Regions from separate parts of the Homo sapiens genome. Here region 1 is linked to region 2. Evidence: fine-mapped expression QTL. A gene starts in region 2. The other region holds a variant in brackets. All regions are shown on one strand. Distances are from middle to middle. Region 1 overlaps ZFYVE21 (zinc finger FYVE-type containing 21). Region 2 holds the start of COA8 (cytochrome c oxidase assembly factor 8).

What was found. PIP is the estimated chance that this variant, and not a neighbour inherited with it, causes the effect.
Region 1: its variant is fine-mapped to the expression of COA8 in whole blood (TOPMed, PIP 0.97).

Annotation. Positions count from the first base shown.
Region 1 is chr14:103,717,045-103,725,371 of GRCh38, forward strand. The region is part of intron 1 of ZFYVE21 (zinc finger FYVE-type containing 21); the gene reads left to right. Among named protein-coding and RNA genes, the nearest start is that of ZFYVE21, 5.4 kb to the left of the region's middle. RefSeq lists enhancers at 1,130-1,640, 4,258-4,758. The variant A/G (reference allele first, on the strand shown) is at 3,125.
Region 2 is chr14:103,559,079-103,567,405 of GRCh38, forward strand. COA8 (cytochrome c oxidase assembly factor 8) reads left to right here and starts at 3,882. Exons shown (of 5, transcript NM_001370595.2): 1 at 3,882-4,046. The coding sequence starts at 3,924. It overlaps BAG5 (BAG cochaperone 5), which reads right to left and starts at 3,579. Exons shown (of 2, transcript NM_001015048.3): 1 at 3,538-3,579; 2 at 1-2,114. The coding sequence starts at 2,086. The coding sequence ends at 743. It also overlaps the pseudogene RNU4-68P. RefSeq lists enhancers at 2,184-2,697, 2,797-2,846 and a silencer at 3,187-3,836.

The sequences.
Region 1 (8,327 bases), 160 kb after region 2:
CTGGGTTCATTGAAGCTTGGTTGGAGGCCTGGTGGGGGGTGAGCGGCCACAGAGCCTCGGGGACAGGACGGAATTCGAGTGACTCTGGGGAAGTGTCTCTGGCATCTACAGTGTACGGAGCCATCACCGGTCACTGAGCGTGTCCTGGAGAGTTGAGACCAGTGCTGCCCACCTCTCCCCAGTATCGCCACCATGAGGAGTCTTTTTAGACACTTTCCGCCAATCATCCTCCTTCATCTTTTTTAAAATTTACTTTTAAGTTGACACGTGAAAATTGTATTTATGGTGTAACGAACTCTTAATAGCACAGAAATACTCTACGTCTGTATGAACCGTAAGGAGCACGTGAGAAAGTGTGGCCAAGATGAGGCAGAGGTTTCCACCAAAGCACAATTTCTTTCTCCCTGCTGTACACATGCACTGATCTTACGGTTCTGTTTTATAGTGAACCACTGTGTTCCCCTCCTTCATTCTCTCTTCCAGAGCCCTTCTGGTATCAGCTGAATTGTTTAGCATTTTTCCCTGCCTTTCTTTGTGGCCTCTGCTGAGGCACTGTGTGGCAGTCCCGCGGTGACTTCCGACTGAGTGGAGTTGAAACACTTGAGTCAAGGTGGCACCCCTCGTGGAAGAGAAGATTCATTCCCACGCTGGCGTGGTGGCAGGATACCCCTCCAGAGCCCCCCACCATGTTTGGATGATTAACTGGGATCTGAGCAGCTGAGGGAGGTCCTAGCATTGGGTGGGCTTGGGGGACAGAGAAACCATTCTAATAAGATGGACTTTGTCTCTGAGTTTTGCGTTGTGAATTGTATTGGAGCATGGTCTTACAGGCCAGAAACGACCAAAGACAGTGTTCTGGAGGAACTTAGAACGGGGCAGTAAGGGCTGGAAGATTTGGAATAAAGTCCAGCTTTAGGTGCAATAGCTCGAGGGGACATGTACGGTAACAGTCGCCTGGCATGTGGTGATGCTGAAGGGGACACTGAGCTACACTGTGCTGGCTGCGTGCTTGGGGCCGCTAAGGTGATTGTCGGGAGGTGACTCAAATGTGCAGATAACCAGTTGTGGGAAATAGGTTTATTTGAGGTGGTTTGGAATGGGGAGAGGAGAATTTGGTAGAACTTGGCAGGTGGGTAACATTGTCCTTGGCTTGGTGGCCGTGTGCCGATCGGCATCATCGTCATATCTGTAAACGTGTTGGTCCATTTTCATTCCAGCTCTGTTCTTAGCCAGGGGAGTCTGAATCCAGCCCAGTGCCCGTCTCCCGAATACCAGCTGCCTGACCGGGCTGGTTTATCAGTTTGGGCCCATGAGGGTTATCCCTTTAAAATGCTGCAAAACCCCCTGGGGAGCATGTGCACACATGCACCTTTCTCCGAGAGGTGGCCTGCAGCTCTCAGATTCTCAAGGCTCTGACGCAGAACCAGTTGAGAATCGTTTCTCCAGTCTGTGCCTCCTCAGGAACCTGTGGGGCAGGGGAGGCAGAGGCGGCGTGTAAAGCTTCGTGCGACACCACTTTGGATAGAGGTGCTTTGGGGGTGTGAAGGAAGCTTCAGATGATCTCTGGGGCTTGTCTGACTCTGCCATCAAATATCCGACACTGACGCAAGGCAGTGGGCTTGGGGGTGGGCGGTCCGGGCGTGCAGCCATCTGGGCTTGTCACAAGCAGCTGAGATCCTGAGTTTTATCCTTAAAATCCTTGCCGCTGTGCACCCCTCCCACCTCCCATCCGTGGTGCTGGCAGAAGAATGACCGCAGCTCCATGCTGGCGGGTTGACACTTTGATGGATACTCTAGATTCAGAGCCAGGAAGGAGAGAGCACGTGCGCGTCTGATCACGAGCCTGGACTCGGATGAGGAGAGATCTGAAGTGAGGACTGTTGCTAGAGGCGTCTGGAGCTGTGCAGCGGGGAGAACAGGGGACCCTGAGTTCTGCGAGGGTCTCACAGGCCAGGCCGGACAGGGCTTTTCTTTTGCAGGGAGGAGTGGCCAAGGCTAGAAAGAATCAAGCTGGGGAGGTGGGATGGGCCAGTGGAGGGTCAGGACCTCCAGCAGATCAGAGAGCTGAGGCCAGAATACAAAAATTAGCTGGGCGTGGTGATGAGTGCCTGTAATTCCAGCTACTTGGGAGGCTGAGACAGGAGAATCACTTGAACCCAGGAAGTGGAGGTTGCAGTGAGCTGAGATCGTGCAGCTGCACTCCAGCCTGGGCGACCAAGCGAGACTCCGTCTCAAAATAAATAAATAAATAATAAAAATTCAAAAATTAGTCGGGCGTGGTGGTGTGTGCCTGTATCCCAGCTCAGGAGGCTGAGGCAGGAGAATCACTTGAACCGGGAAGAGGAGGTTGCAATGAGCCAAGATTGTGCCACTGCACTTCAGCCTGGGTGACAGAGCAAGACTCTGTCTCAAAAAAAAAAAAAAAAAAGTCCAGGTAAGGGAATTGTGTTCCAGTTGATCATGAGGAGAAATGGCCAGTGTTTTCTGAGGCAGAGAATGGGAATTTGGAGGGCCTTGCTGCAGGTAAGCAAGGGGGGCATCTGTGATCTCCTCTGGCTCGTATGGGGAGGGTGGTTCTCGGTGGAAGGCTTTCCCAGCACACTGCAGGGTGGGGGGTTTCATAATTGTTTCCAGGATCTCAGCGCTTGGGTAAAGCTCACCCCTGTGAGGTGCCAGGGGCTGCCAGAGCCTCCACAGGTGTTCTGGGAACCAGCAGCCTCATGAGATACTGCCAGGGACACCAGCGAGCTCCTCAAGGGTCCCTGTGGCTGGCTAAGAGCTTTTTCTTTTTTGAGACAAGGTGTTGCTGTGTCACCCAGGCTGGAGAGCTGTTACTGATGTTAGGTAAAACTGAGACTTTGAAGCCACAAAAAAGGATTCCTGGGCGTCCTGTGGGAGGCCAGGCCGCCTGTAGCATAACCCTCCCAGGCTGTGATCATAGTGTCTGCACCTGTCACCGTCTTCAAACTGTCTGACAGCTTCAAATTGTAGAAAACTGATAGTAACGCACGTGTTTCTAGTCCCTGAGATGCAAGTAGATTTTGTCTCTCAGAGGTGAAGTTGATGTCCTCTCTCACACACCCCACCGCGGGGTCCCTGTGAGAGGAGCCAGTTTACAACTCAT[A/G]TCTTCCTTCCTCACGGCCTGTATCCATGTCTGCTCTTTGGATTCTCCTTTGAACTGGGTTTTTAGTCTTATTGGTTCTCTCATTAACTAATGAGGTAAATCTTTGACGTGGGTTCCTTTTCTGTTTGTAGGAGTTACGCTCTACCAGTTAAACGTGATTATCTTTCAATAAAGGTGCATTGATACATGCATTTAAATTGTTTTTTGATTGGCGAGTTCTTGGGGGGCTGAGAATTAGTTGACTGTGGGAGCCCCACCAGCCAGTGGGTGACGCTTCTCACTGTAGTGTGGGAGCTCAGAGTGCGTGGTGGGGCCTGATGTTTTTTGTCACCCCAGCCTCAAAGGGAGGGCAGGCCTATGTCCATGTCCAGCCTGTGTCCTGAGACTTGGTTCTTTTTATAACTTTTTTTGAACATCCATTTAAACTCCCTAAACTATACTTTCAGATTATATGGAGGCGCTTTTGGTTTCTTGCGTGCTGCCAAACCCCACTCTTTGGGGTGGGCCGGGTGCTGGTTCTGAGGAGCTGCCCTGTGACCCTCGAGGGGCCGTTCCTGTTGCATTGGAGTGGGGGAGCGGGTCTCGACCTGCAGGTCTCTAAGGAGCTCCATGCTGGTGTCTGCCGCACTGTGGAGGAGTGATGGGCTTCATGATTTCTGTTTTTTGTTTTGTTTGAGACGGAGTCTCACTGTCACCCAGGCTGGAGTGCAGTGGCGCGATCTCGGCTCACTTCAGCCTTCACCTCCCGGGTTCAAGCCATTCTCCTGCCTCAGCCTCCCGAGTAGCTGGGACCATAGGTACCCGCCACCACGCCCAGCTAATTTTTAGGTTTTATTTTGTAGGGACAGGGTTGTGCTATGTTGCTCAGGCTGGTCTGAAACTCCTGAGCTCCAGCAGTCCACCCACCTCAGCCTCCCGAAGTGCTGGGATTACAGGTGTGGCCACCACGCCTGACCTGGTTTCTTCTTTCATTGCTCGCGGCCATCTTGCTTACCCACCGGGAAGCCTAGTTTATGGCATCTGCCTTGACCGCCTCCGAGCATGTCATCTGGCAGGGTGGGTGCAAGTCAGTTGTGGTTTACTGGACTAGCAAGGAGGGGACAAGCGCCCAGGGCTCTGACTCCTGTAGGCAGCCAGGAGAAGTGTGTTCCGAAATTTCACTGGGAGCCGTCTGCATGCACCTGCCCTGATCCTCGCTCCCTCTTGGCCCCGCTTCCCTTGAGACAGCTCCTTCTGTGTCCATATAGCTTCCCGCCGAGCCTGTGATTGGCCCTGCAAGGTGGCCACGGAGGCCTCCCATGGAGGTGAGTGCCAGGCGCCCCAGAGAGGCCTGGGCCGAGGCTGCCTCTGTGACGCCACTGCACAGGGCACAGAGGGCTCCTGGAGAGCACTTGGGCCCCGCCGTCCATCCTAGGGGGCAGTGTCTGTCATTAGCGGGTTTATCTGCTTGGCTTGGGCAAGAGGGTCAGGCAGCAGATGGGTGTTATTAGGGGCACTGCCCAAGCTGACCTTGCCTCACTCTCCCTCTTCATCTCTGTGTGTTTGTCACAGCCTGCACCTCTGGCCTCGTGGCCCTCACTAAACACCTTTATTATTTATTTATTCATTTTCCTCACTAAACGTCTTGAGGCCTGTTTCATTGGGTTGTTCTTGGAGGTTTTAGTTTCCCCAGCGAATGTGCTGGTTTGAAAGTCTGCTCCAGCCCACGCTGGTGGTGACACATGTGTACCTGGGATGTGACGCAGAGGCTGGCATTCCAGACACCGCTGGCCACCTACGGTGAAAACGGATGAATCACACTTGGTTTCTGGGCTTTGGTGTATTCTCCCTAGCTCCTAAAATAGCTGTTCCACTGAGCATCAGAGCTGCGGGGTCCAGTTAAAGGAGGCGCTGGTGGGAGCCTGGTCTGGGGCCCGGCTTGCTGTCCTGCGCTTCCTTTGCGGGGCGTGCTTACTGGCGGGGTAGGTATTTGGCAGTAGTTTTACCTTATGTCTTCATCCATTGCTTTATTTCATATTAAATTGCTCTGTTGATAATTTTTTAAATTTCTTTCACTAATATAATCAATAGGAAATTACCTTATTTAAAAGCCTATACATCTAAGCTCCTTGGTTATTTTATAGTAATAAACTTCTGGATCACTTATATTTTTAAGGGGGCAAATCCTAGGTGTGGTCTGTCTCTTTTTTTTTTTTTTTTTTTTTGAGACAGGGTCTCACTCTGCTTCCCAGGCTGGAGTGCAATGGCATGAACATGGCTCACTGCAGCCTCGACCTCCTGGGCTCAAGCTGTCCTCCCAGCTCTGCCTCCCAAGTAGCTGGGACTACAGGTGTGCACCACCATGCCTGGCTCATTAAAAAAAATGTTCAGGCCGGGCACGGTGGCTCACGCCTGTAATCCCAGCACTTTGGGAGGCCGATGCAGGCAGATCACAAGGTCAGGAGATCGAGATCATCCTGGCTAACACAGTGAAACCCCGTCTCTACTAAAAATACAAAAAATTAGCTGGGCGTGGTGGCGGGCACCTGTAGTTCCAGCTACTTGGGAGGCTGAGGCGGGAGAATGACGTGAACCCGGGAGGCGGAGCTTGCAGTGAGCCGAGATTGTGCCACTGCACTCCAGCCTGGGCGACAGACTCCGTCTCAAAAAAAAAAAAATGTTCGTAGAGACAGGGTCTTGCTGTGTTGCCCAGGCTAGTCTTAAACTCTTGGGCTCAAGTGATCCTCCTGCCTCAGCCTCCCAAAGTGCTGGGATTACAGGCGTGAGCCACTGCTCCAGCAGTGTGGTGTTATATTTAGAAATTGGCCTTTCAGCTTGCCCAAACACAAACTGCACAGTAAATGTGAAAAGCAGTCCTCTTTCACCACCGTCTGCTGAGAATATTGAGAGCCCTCTCCCCTCCTGTCGGGCGCTGTGGGCCAGGGTCACCATGGAGAGACCATCAATAGTTACTCTCACTGGAACCTGGTGATAACGTGGCCTCGTGTTTGCTTAAGCTCAGAGTTAAAACCCCCGTGAAGCTTTCTCTAGCAGATTCTAGTGGATTCTGTGGCTAGTGGATGTCTGGGGTCAGGGAAGGGGCCACCACACAGAGGCAGGGACTGTGCCACCGCACAGCAGGCAGAACATTCCAGAACCGACAGGCCCATTTGAGGGCAATGGCAGGGCTGGGCTGAAGCACAATCAGGGCGGGGAACAGCCAGCCAACGCCCACAGCCCGTGGGCAGGGAGCCCCTGGCAGAGCTGCCAGCTGGACTTTTTAGATGCTTCCAGAAGGCTGGGGTGGGCCAGGCCTGGTTTCCAAGTCCAGGAAGCAGCTTAAAAGCAAAGGGAAACAAAAAAAGGCTGGTCGTGGGATCTCACAAAGCTCAGGACCTGCCTGCCTGAGTTGGGGCAGTGGCGACATGGAACTCGGCAGGGATGAGGCCCTCGTGTGGGTCGCGACGGGCCAGTCCTTGCTGCAGAATGGCGTCTGAAGGGCCCCTGATGTGCGCCACAACCGGGACCTCTGTCCTCCTACAGTGAGGGTACACGTGGCTGTGGGCCCCATAGGACTCCTTCCAGAAGCATCTGCAGAGTCCCAGGACCACCAGACTCTGTTTTGCCAACTAAGCACAGTGGGCACTTGGCACCTGATGTGGACTGTCTCCGAGCCCCCTGTGGAGGGGCTGCAGGCTTCCTGTGCTGCCTGTGTGGGTCCCGCAGGCTGGAGGGAGGCCCCTGCCTTTGCAGATTGCAGGGTGGCAGGGACACGCTGAGGGTGGCGGGGACATGGTGAGGGTGGCGGCTGTGATGGCACCGCATCAGAGCAGCTCCTCCACACCAGCGTCTTCTGGGGCTCAGAGAAGGGGTTGGACTTCCCAGAGAAGGGGTGCAGGGCAGGGAAGAGTCCCCATGCCTATGAGGGAGAGGATCAGGGTGGGGTGATGGAGGATCCGTGGCTGGGCCCCCAGACCACAGGGAGGCTGTGCAGCCATGTCAGAGGCGCTGGGGGATTGGGCGGCCGCGCGGTCCCCACCCCAGCTCAGACCCAGGGGCCTGTGTTCCAGAAGGTGCTCGGCCCCGGTGACCCCACAGGCCTTGCCTGCCTCCTTGTGGAATCAGCCCCAGCAGTGTTCGCCGGCCCAGGGTTGGGCTGGAACGGTGCCATGCGTGTGGGAGCAGCTTTCCCACGGAGGGGCCGAGCCCTGTCAGCTGCTTGTCGGTGCCAGCACAGCCCGTCTGTCCTTGGTGGAGCTCTGAGGCGGCTCTCGCGTTAGATAAGACGTCTGAGCTCTTGTGTGGCTTGGTAATGCTGTGGCCACCTCCAGTCTGCCTCCTTTTCGAGACTTCAGGCCCTCAGTTTATGCTCGCCAGGTAATTCCTGGTCTCGTTTGGGGGCCCCCTCCTTCCCCCAGAAGGGAAAAGGGGGCTCTTCGTGGAGCGAAGGTCTTCTCTTACATCTCTTTTGAGGATTATTGTGCTTAGAACATGGATGATTCTTGGTCAATATTCAGCCGAGCCCTTAATCATCAGAAGCCAAAAGACCCTCCATCTCTCCCAAGAGGACCCCTTTGACTCCCACCGTTCCGTCGCTGGTTCATTGAACCCACACCTGTTTCTGGTTCACCACCCGCCACCGAGGTCTCTGACAGCGAGGACCAAAGCGGGGTGTGCTTGTCACACCTTGTTTCATCCTTACCAAGGACCCCAGAGCACGAGGGTCTTGTTCTCATGAAGCTGAGGGAGGCGAGGCGTCCTGGGTCCCGCAGCCCCCAATGCGCTGCTGAAGGGCCTGCTGGGGAGCGGGTGGGCAGCACCGAGGGCCAGCTTTGAAAAAGGCTGTACCGGCTTACCAAATCCGGGGACCATTTTCGTGGCAAAAGTGTCCCTCACTCTGTTAAAAGAATGCATGGTGACACAGATTTCCTTCAGAGCCAGGTCTGAATGTCTTCCCCTTGGACTGAAGTCCCTGCTGTTAGAGCGGGGGAGCCGGCGGCGATGGCGGCGTCCTCGTGCTGCGCTCGTGCCGGCGTCAGGGTCCCCCTGCCATCTGGAGTGAGCAGGAGGCGGCCAGGCCAGGCCTTCCCAGCTGAGGTTTGGGAGTTCCGTGCCTTTGGTGCTGAGGGTGAGCGTGTTCACGGTGACTTCGTCCCTTGGTCATGAGGAGGTTCGAGCTAGGAACCCCCTGCAAGTGGTCAACGCATCCGGCTTGCTGTTCTAA
Region 2 (8,327 bases):
AGCTCAGATTTTACAAACAAAAGCAACTTACAAGGTATTATTGCTGGTCCTTTATCCCTTCTCTTTAATGCAATCTCAAAGGTTTTTTGGCTATTAGTTTTCATAATTTTCTTATGTTGCACACAAAAACAAGATTCCTCTCTAAAACGTAGAGGATGGGGAAAATGCAGATGCTGTTTTTCCAACTAAAAATGTTTACAAAAGAACAGACTGTCTGAACAAACAAAAAAACCCCACCCCGTTAAGCTGGGTAGGACCAATCAGGCCTTATAAGTGAAAAAAAAGCCTTCTATCGAGCATAATGAAACAGAACATGTACTGCTTGTGTTTGAACCTTACTCTTATTTAACCAAAAATTTCCCCTTTCTCATAATTTTCCTAGTATTATGTAAGGTTATGCCTAGTTCTAGATTCTGAAAGACCTGCATTTTAATGCTTGCACAACCCATTTAAAATCTACAAAAGCTGCCTCTATTTTGTTTTCTGATTAAAAACGCAAAAAAAAGGACAAACCAAACAAACCACACCACATCATACAGATAATGATCCGAATGGAAAAGTTAACGTGCTGTAATGATATTTGTCTTGCAACATCAAAAGCAGCAGATACTGAATAGAATTTGCTTCAATCATAAATACTGAGACTGAAATATGCACGTATAAATCAATGAACTGAAAGCTCTCTATACATAGAAGCACATATGAAGTGCAAAACAGTATCAAAAGTGAGATCTCTGGTATTTCAGTACTCCCATTCATCAGATTTCAGGTCGAGATAGCTGAGAATATTCTGCGCAAGCCTCACAGCTTGTTTCCTGGCAGCCTTACACTTCTCTTCTCCCTGCGGATCAACAGCATCCAGGGCTAGCAGCTGCTTGGTGAGCAGCTCTTCCAGCCGGATGTAGTTCTTATCGGTTCGATTTCCATCAAATGAAAGAACTTCTCCCTGGATCTCAGACAAGTTTCCAAGGACGTTCCAGACGGCTTTATGGGATGGGTGCTCCTCACAAGCAAACAGCTTTCTTTTCTCAAGGGCCTCCTTCAAGTCAATATATGTGATCAGAGTTTGCACCTCGATCACTGCTCTTCTCCTGGCTTCCCGGATGCAGGGGTTTTTTTCAAGACTTACCTCATCCAACTGTCCAATTAAACCCTGCAATTCTGTTTTGGAGCTCAGGTACAATTCAGAAGGGTTTTGTGCTTGGAGAAGTTCATTTTTTATTTCTCTCATTCTCTTGAGGACCTTTTCTATTTTTAAAATGGAATGATTCTGTCTCAGGTCAAATGCTTTAGTTGTGTCTGCTTCCTCTTCCAAATCCAGATATTTCAATAATTTGTTGATATCTTCTACTACCTCCCTCCGATAATTTCTGATTTCTGTCCGGCCGCACACATCTAGAGCATCCAGGTCAGCGATCAGCCCCGAGAGCACACAGGATAAGTGCCTGCAGGTCTCATTGTTGTTCACACCCATCAGAAGTGCAATCAGGACCCCTCGGGCCTTGTTCACCTCACACATCACGAAGTTGATTTTGGCAACGGAAGGATGTGCATCCTCGGAAAGCGGCAGGGAAGGCTGCTTTTTCATGCAGTCTTCGATTATCTCTTGCACCGCACAGATTTTGGTTAAAGTGTGATACCTTGCTTTCCGCAAGGAGATTTTTCCTCCAGTTTTAACATGTGTCAGCCTCAGAATGATATCTTGGATGCCTTCTTCAAACTCATCAGTTACGCAGTTGCCTCCATTATAAAATGGCACAATTTTCTCTCTCACGAGGGACTGGGCTTCCTCAAAAATGTTCTGTATTTCAATCCGGTGTGGGTGGTTTGCATTCTGCTCCAACTCTTTGAGAAGACGTTCTGTCTCCTGTGCTGCCCGCTTCCTAGCTTGCTGAATATCTCCTTTTCCTTCAGTATCTACAGAGTCTATTTCAAAAAGCTGTTTTGTTAGAATCCTCTCCAGTTTCTTGTAATTCTTGTCATCTGACAGACCACTGAAGCCGATAACTTGCTGTTCTACACTTTTTACTTCCTTTTGGATTTCCTGAAGCCTACTAATAGAAGGATGTTGGTTTCCCATATCCATACTTTTGTTGTGTTCAGTTTCACAAGCACTAAAAGACGACAAGAATGATAACTTACTACAGCACAAGGCTTCTGCAGAACACTAATGGTATATTAAGTCATTCTAAAATTCTCATTTTAAAAAGGTATACTTCTGAGCAGTCATCCCACCTCAGCCTCCCCAGTAGCTGGGTCTACAGTCGTACACCACTACGCCCAGCTAATGTTATTTTTAGTAGAGACAGGTCTCACTATATTGCCCAGGCTGGTCTCAGACGATCCGCCCGCCTCCGCCTCCCAAAGTGCTGGGATTAAGGTGTGAGTCACCGTACGCGACACAAACTATTTGGAACCAGCAGGGCACCTTTATGAAAGGTGAAACAGTAGCTCTTGTAACCTTCCGAACACTAACAGTACCCCGCCCCGCCACACAGCTATGCCTAGTTTCCAGAAACTCTAAGCAAAAGAAAGAACCAGAACAAAAACCAGTGGCTCTCAGACATCCCCAAGGTCCCCGCTTCTTCGTTTCTCTCCATCCCTTTGTGCACTTCCCCTCCCCACCCTTTTAGCTCCTCACACATCTTCCCTCACAGAAGTCTCCCTGAAGAGATTAAAACCCCACAGGTAAAGAAGAGCGACCGGGACAGCGCTGAAGGGCACCACCTTGGGCTTTCGAGGCCCAACACCTCCTCAGCCCCCAACATGCTCCACTCTCTCAAAAAAAAACAACCCGCGAAAACGTGGTAACTATGAATAATTCATTCACTCGCCTCCCACTGGGAGTCCACAATGGCCTAATGCACGTTTCAAGCTCTTGGTTTCTATCAAACGGCTCGCTCAAGGTGGGTAACCAATGGAAACGCATAATCTATCCCCGGCGGATGTCCTGGAGGCCACGGAGGGAAGGCGGCCCGAGCTGCTTCCTCCCCGCCTCGCCCTTCCCTCTTGGCCCTTTACCCAAAAGAAGTCTGAATTGGATGCGGTCTTGGCGTCCCGTGGCTGAGGTGGCGAGGTGGAAGATCAGCCCTTTACGGGGTGCGGCACCGGAGCTGGGCCCCCAGCTGCATGCCTCGCACCCCTCCCGACTAGGTCTGAGCGGGGCAGCCGGTGAAGGGGCCGCTACTGGCTGCAGCAGCCGCTCCGGGCGTCTTGGCCCGGGTGCCAGGGCGCGCCTGCAGGACGTGACCTCACAATGGGCGCGCGAGGGGAGCTCGGCCCGGCCGGGGGAAGCCGGGGGAGGAGGGGAACCGAGGCCCGGCCGGAGACACCAGAGACCAGGCCCGGCCAGCCCCGGTCGCTTCCGACCCCAGGGGCGGGGACAGCGCCGAGACCGACTCTGCCCTGCCTGATCCGACAGGCCGCACGGGGCTGGGCGCTGGCGAAGGGGTGGCCCAGCGGGGAGCCCCGCGCGGAGGTGGTGCCCCACTCGTCCCCCCGAGAGAGGGAAAAGGCTACAAGCCGCGCTTCGCTCACCTGTCCCGCCCGCGCCATCGCGCGATGCGTCGCCGACGCTTCCACGACTTCCGCAGCTCCGGCAGTCGCCCGGGCCCGGCAGCCCCGCCCCTGGCCGAACACCCCTAAACCCGGGGACACCTCCTCCGGCGTCCGCGCCTAGCCGCCGGCAGCGCCACGCCCACCGCCAGCGGCGCAGCGAGGCAGCCTGGAGTGACCGCGACCAAGGAGCGGCCGCCCGGGTCAGCCCGCGCCGCCCGCCGCCCCCTCACCCCGTCGCACCGCTGGGAAAGCGCACGGTCGGCCGCGCCGCCGCGCTTCCTCGGGCTTCGCGACCCTGCCGTAAAGCGGCCCCTCGCGCCGTCGCAATGCTGCCGTGCGCCGCGGGAGCCAGGGGGCGTGGGGCCATGGTGGTCTTGCGGGCGGGGAAGAAGACCTTTCTCCCCCCTCTCTGCCGCGCCTTCGCCTGCCGCGGCTGTCAACTCGCTCCGGAGCGCGGCGCCGAGCGCAGGGATACGGCGCCCAGCGGGGTAAGCAGGGGCCTGGGGACATTGGGCCGGGAGGGGTGACCGGAAGGGAAGACAAACCCGGGCCTCGGGGCCACTCCCTGTTCTGCACAGCCGCCTCAGGCCTTTGTCCAGGTGCTCTCGCGTCCTATCCCGAACAGTCCCGCAGCCCCGAGGCTCCCGCATCAACGCCCTCAGTCGGATGGGACTGAGGGTGCCGCCGCCACCACGCCGGGGACTGTTGACAGCCAGAACCTTTAAGCGTAACAGAGTCACCTGGCAAGTTTGTACCTACCTTATTTGTTCCCGAGAATGATTATTTTTTATTTTTAAAGAGCTCTTGGCTTACCGTGCGTTTTTTTTCGTTGTGTGTGTGTGTGTTTTGGCTTTGTTACAATTATTAGTGCTTTTCTTCAAGCGGCGAGCACTTTATCATCGTACTTTTGTAGCACTTCACGTTGAATAGTTGTTATTTGCAAACTATGTGTGGGTATATGCATGTTACTGGCCAAAGATCCGCAAAGAATGTCTGTAGCAAGAATGTCTGTGGCAAGCAATTTTTATAAGTGGTACTTTTGGGAGGGATGTTTTGTTTAAGGGAGGCCTAGGCCTTGATTCCGTCTGTCAGATGAAAATGTTGACTAACGGTGTGGAATGGGCTGGAGATAAAATATTCAAGCAAAGCATGCAAATACCAAACAGGCTAATGAAGGAGGCTGGAAAACTTGGTTTAAACAATAATTAAAGAAGTATTAAAAAAGTGTTAATTAAAAATTGGACGGGCTCCGTGGCTCACGCTTGTAATCCCAGCACTTTGGGAGGCCGAGGCAAGCGGATCACGAAATCAAGAGGTGAGACCATCCTGCCCAACATGGTGAAACGTCTCTGCTAAAAATACAGAAATTAGCTGGGCATAGTGGCGCGCGCCTGTAGACCCAGCTACTCGGGAGGATGAGGCAGGAAAATCGCTTGAACCCGGGAGACGGAGGTTGCTGTGAGTCGAGATCGCGCCACTGCACTCCAGCCTGGCGACAGAGGGAGACTTCATCTCAAAAAAAAAAAAGCTAATTAAAAATTGCAAATGTACTTGCTTGTACATTTTCATTTCTGTTGGGCTGTGGCTGTTAGTACACTTTCATAATTGTAGCTTTGAAGGTCTATCTAGTTTACAATTTAAACAAGGAGTTACCAGGGCAACTTGCCAACCAGACACCCAAGTGGCTAGCTCAGTTCTGTGTTACAGTGACCAAGTCCTTGCCTTCTATCCCTAGAACATAGAAACCCACCCAGCATCTCTATCTTTGGGCAGAAAGATAGAGCAGGTGTCTGAAAATGCTCTAAGAGAGCAAACGGGAAATCAACCAAGACATTTCCCGGGCGGGGGGGATTTTCCCTAGCTTATTTTGTGAACTTGTGCTGGAAAGAAACAACAGCACCCAAATAAGGATTTCTCTATTGTCATATACACTTCTTTTTTTTTTTTTTTTTTTTTTTTTTGAGTTGGAGTCTCCCTCTGTCGCCCAGGTGGGAGTACAGTGGCGTGATCTCAGCTCACTGCAACCTCTGCCTCCCGGGCTCAAGCGATTCTCGTGCCTCAGCCTTCCGAGTAGCTGGGACTACAGGGGCCCACCACCATGCCCGGCTAATTTTTTTGTATTTTTAGTAGAGACAGGGTTTCACCTGTTGGCCAGGCTGGTTTCAAACTCCTGACCTCAAGTGATGCGCCTGCCTGGGCCTCCCAAAGTGCTAGGATTACAAGTGTGAGCCACCACTCTCAGCCTTAGACTTCTTGTTAAAGTAAAATAAATCTTACCATGGGTCTGTTCTCAAGATGAGAGACCTCTCTGCCTTGTTCGTTTTTTCTTTTTTCGAGATGGAGTTTTTGCTCTGTTGCCCAGGCTGGAGTGCAATGGCGCAGTCTCGGCTCACTGCAACCTTTGCCTACTGGGTTCAAGCAATTCTCCTGCCGCAGCCTCCTGAGTATAGCTGGGATCACAGGCGCATGCTGCCACGCCTGGTTAATTTTTTTTTCTTTTTTTAGTAGAGATGGGGTTTCACTATGCTGGCCAGGCAGGTCTCGAACTCCTGACTTCAGGTGATCCACCCGCCTTGGCCTCCCAAAGTGCTGAGATTATAAGTGTGAGCCACCATGCCCAGCCAGCACCAGCTTTTAATTGAAAAATATTATAGAACTTAAGAGTCAGGCACCATTCTTCCTTCCAAATCCATCTTTAAAACTCAGCTTTTCAGAAATATAACTGCTTTTGGTAAAGAAAAAAAAATTAAGACTTTTAAATTCTGTTCCCTAGCCACTTCATGCCTGCTTATGTCTTACCTATGTAGTTTGCATCATTGGTTCCTAAACTTGTTTGCACGTAAGAATTAGTCTGACTCTTTTAGTTCTTTTTTTTTCTTTAATCCGGAAGTTCCTGAACCAGAATAGGTTCAGAGATACTCCCTTTTAGTTCTTTTTAATCCATAGGTTCTGCCTCCATCACCTCCCCACCTTTTTTTTTAATTTTTTTTTTTTTTTGAGATGGAGTCTTGCTCTGTCACCCAGGCTGGAGTGCAGTGGCGTGATCTCAGCTCACTGCAACCTCCACCGCCCGGGTTCAAGCAATTCTCCTGCCTCAGCCTCCTGAGTAGCTGGGATTACAGGTGCCTACCACCATGCCCGGCTAATTTTTGTATTTTTTGTAGAGACGGGTTTCACCATGTTGGCCAGGGTGGTCTTGAACTCCTGACCTCAGGTGATCTGCTCACCTCAGCCTCCCAAAGTGCTGGGATTACAGGTATGAGCCACTGTGCCTGGCCCAAAGTCACTTTTAGCTTCAAAAATGAGCTGTAGGGTATGCCTTCTTTTCCTGTTTCCGTGGATTGTTTACTAAGGTTTGAATTTTTCTGTGACTGGTAGAACCTACAAGTCATTTGAACCTGAGTTTTCATAAGAACAAGCCATTTTAACCCCATCTTCTTTTTGGTTAGAGTTTAACCCCATCTTCTTTCTGGTTAGAGTTACTAAACTGGTAAATAAGAGTGATCCGGCCAGGCATGGTGGCTCACACCTTGCCAGCACTTTGGGAGACTGAGGCAGGCAGATCACCTGAGGTCAGGAGTTCAAGACCAGCCCGGCCAACATGGTGAAATCCTGTCTCTACAAAAATACAAAAATTAGCCGGGCATGATGGTGGTACCTGTAATCCCAGCTAGTTGGGAGGCTGAGGCGGGAGAATCGCTTGAACCCAGGAGGCAGAGGTTGCAGTGAGCCGAGATCGCGCCATTGCACTCCAGCCTGGGCGATGGACCAAGACTCATTCTCAAAAAGAAAAAAAAGAGTGAGCCATTGCATATTGATTTAAACAAGACATCTGATAAAGTCTCATGTATTTTTGAAAACCGTGTCCTGTATTGTGGTGCTTAAAACACCAATGGAAACATTTGTCTCAGGGTGGTTGGCATTTCCTGCACAGGTTCTTCATGAGGTGCCAGAGATACAGAAATGAATGTGTGTGCCTCTTTTCACACATGCACAGATGGCTCTCCAGGCAGGAGCTCTGCATGCTAACACATGCCTCCCTGGTGCCTAGAGCAGTGCTTGGCCTTTGCATGGTGGTGCAGGGGCAGGCAGGTTGATGCTTATGGAGAATGGCTGAATCCACCATGTCCATCTTTGGAATCTATCAGAAGTTTATTGTTTGCAGCTCCAGGCAGGGTCTCCTGAGGATGCAAGGGAGCACCACCCTGGGCCTGCCTGTTGGGCACCTAACTTCTGAGAGGAGGAGGGTTGGAACAAGTCCACAAATAACCATATTTTTCCCTTTTTTGGACATAGGGTCTTGCTCTGTTGCCCAGGCTGGAGTGCAGTGGCACAAACATAGCTCACCACAGCCTCAACCTCACTGGCTCAAGTAATCTTCCTGCCTCAGCCTCTTTAGTAGCTGGGGCTACAGGCATGTGCCACCGCACCTGGCTGATTTTTAAAATTTTTTTGGCAGGGCGCGGTGGCTCGTGCCTGTAATCTCAGCACGTTGGAAGGCCGAGGCAGGTGGATCATCTGAGGTCAGGAATTCAAGACCAGCCTGGCCAACGTGGTGAAACACCGTCTCTACTGAAAATACAAAAATTAGCCGGGCGTGGTGGCGCATGCCTGTAATCCCAGCTACTCGGGAGGCTGAGGCAGGAGAATTGCTTGAACCTGGTAGGCGGAGGCTGCAGTGAGCCAAGATCGCGCCACTGCACTCCAGCCTGGGCAACAATGCGAGACTCTTTCTCAAAAAAAAAAAAAAAAAAAAATTTTTTTTTGTA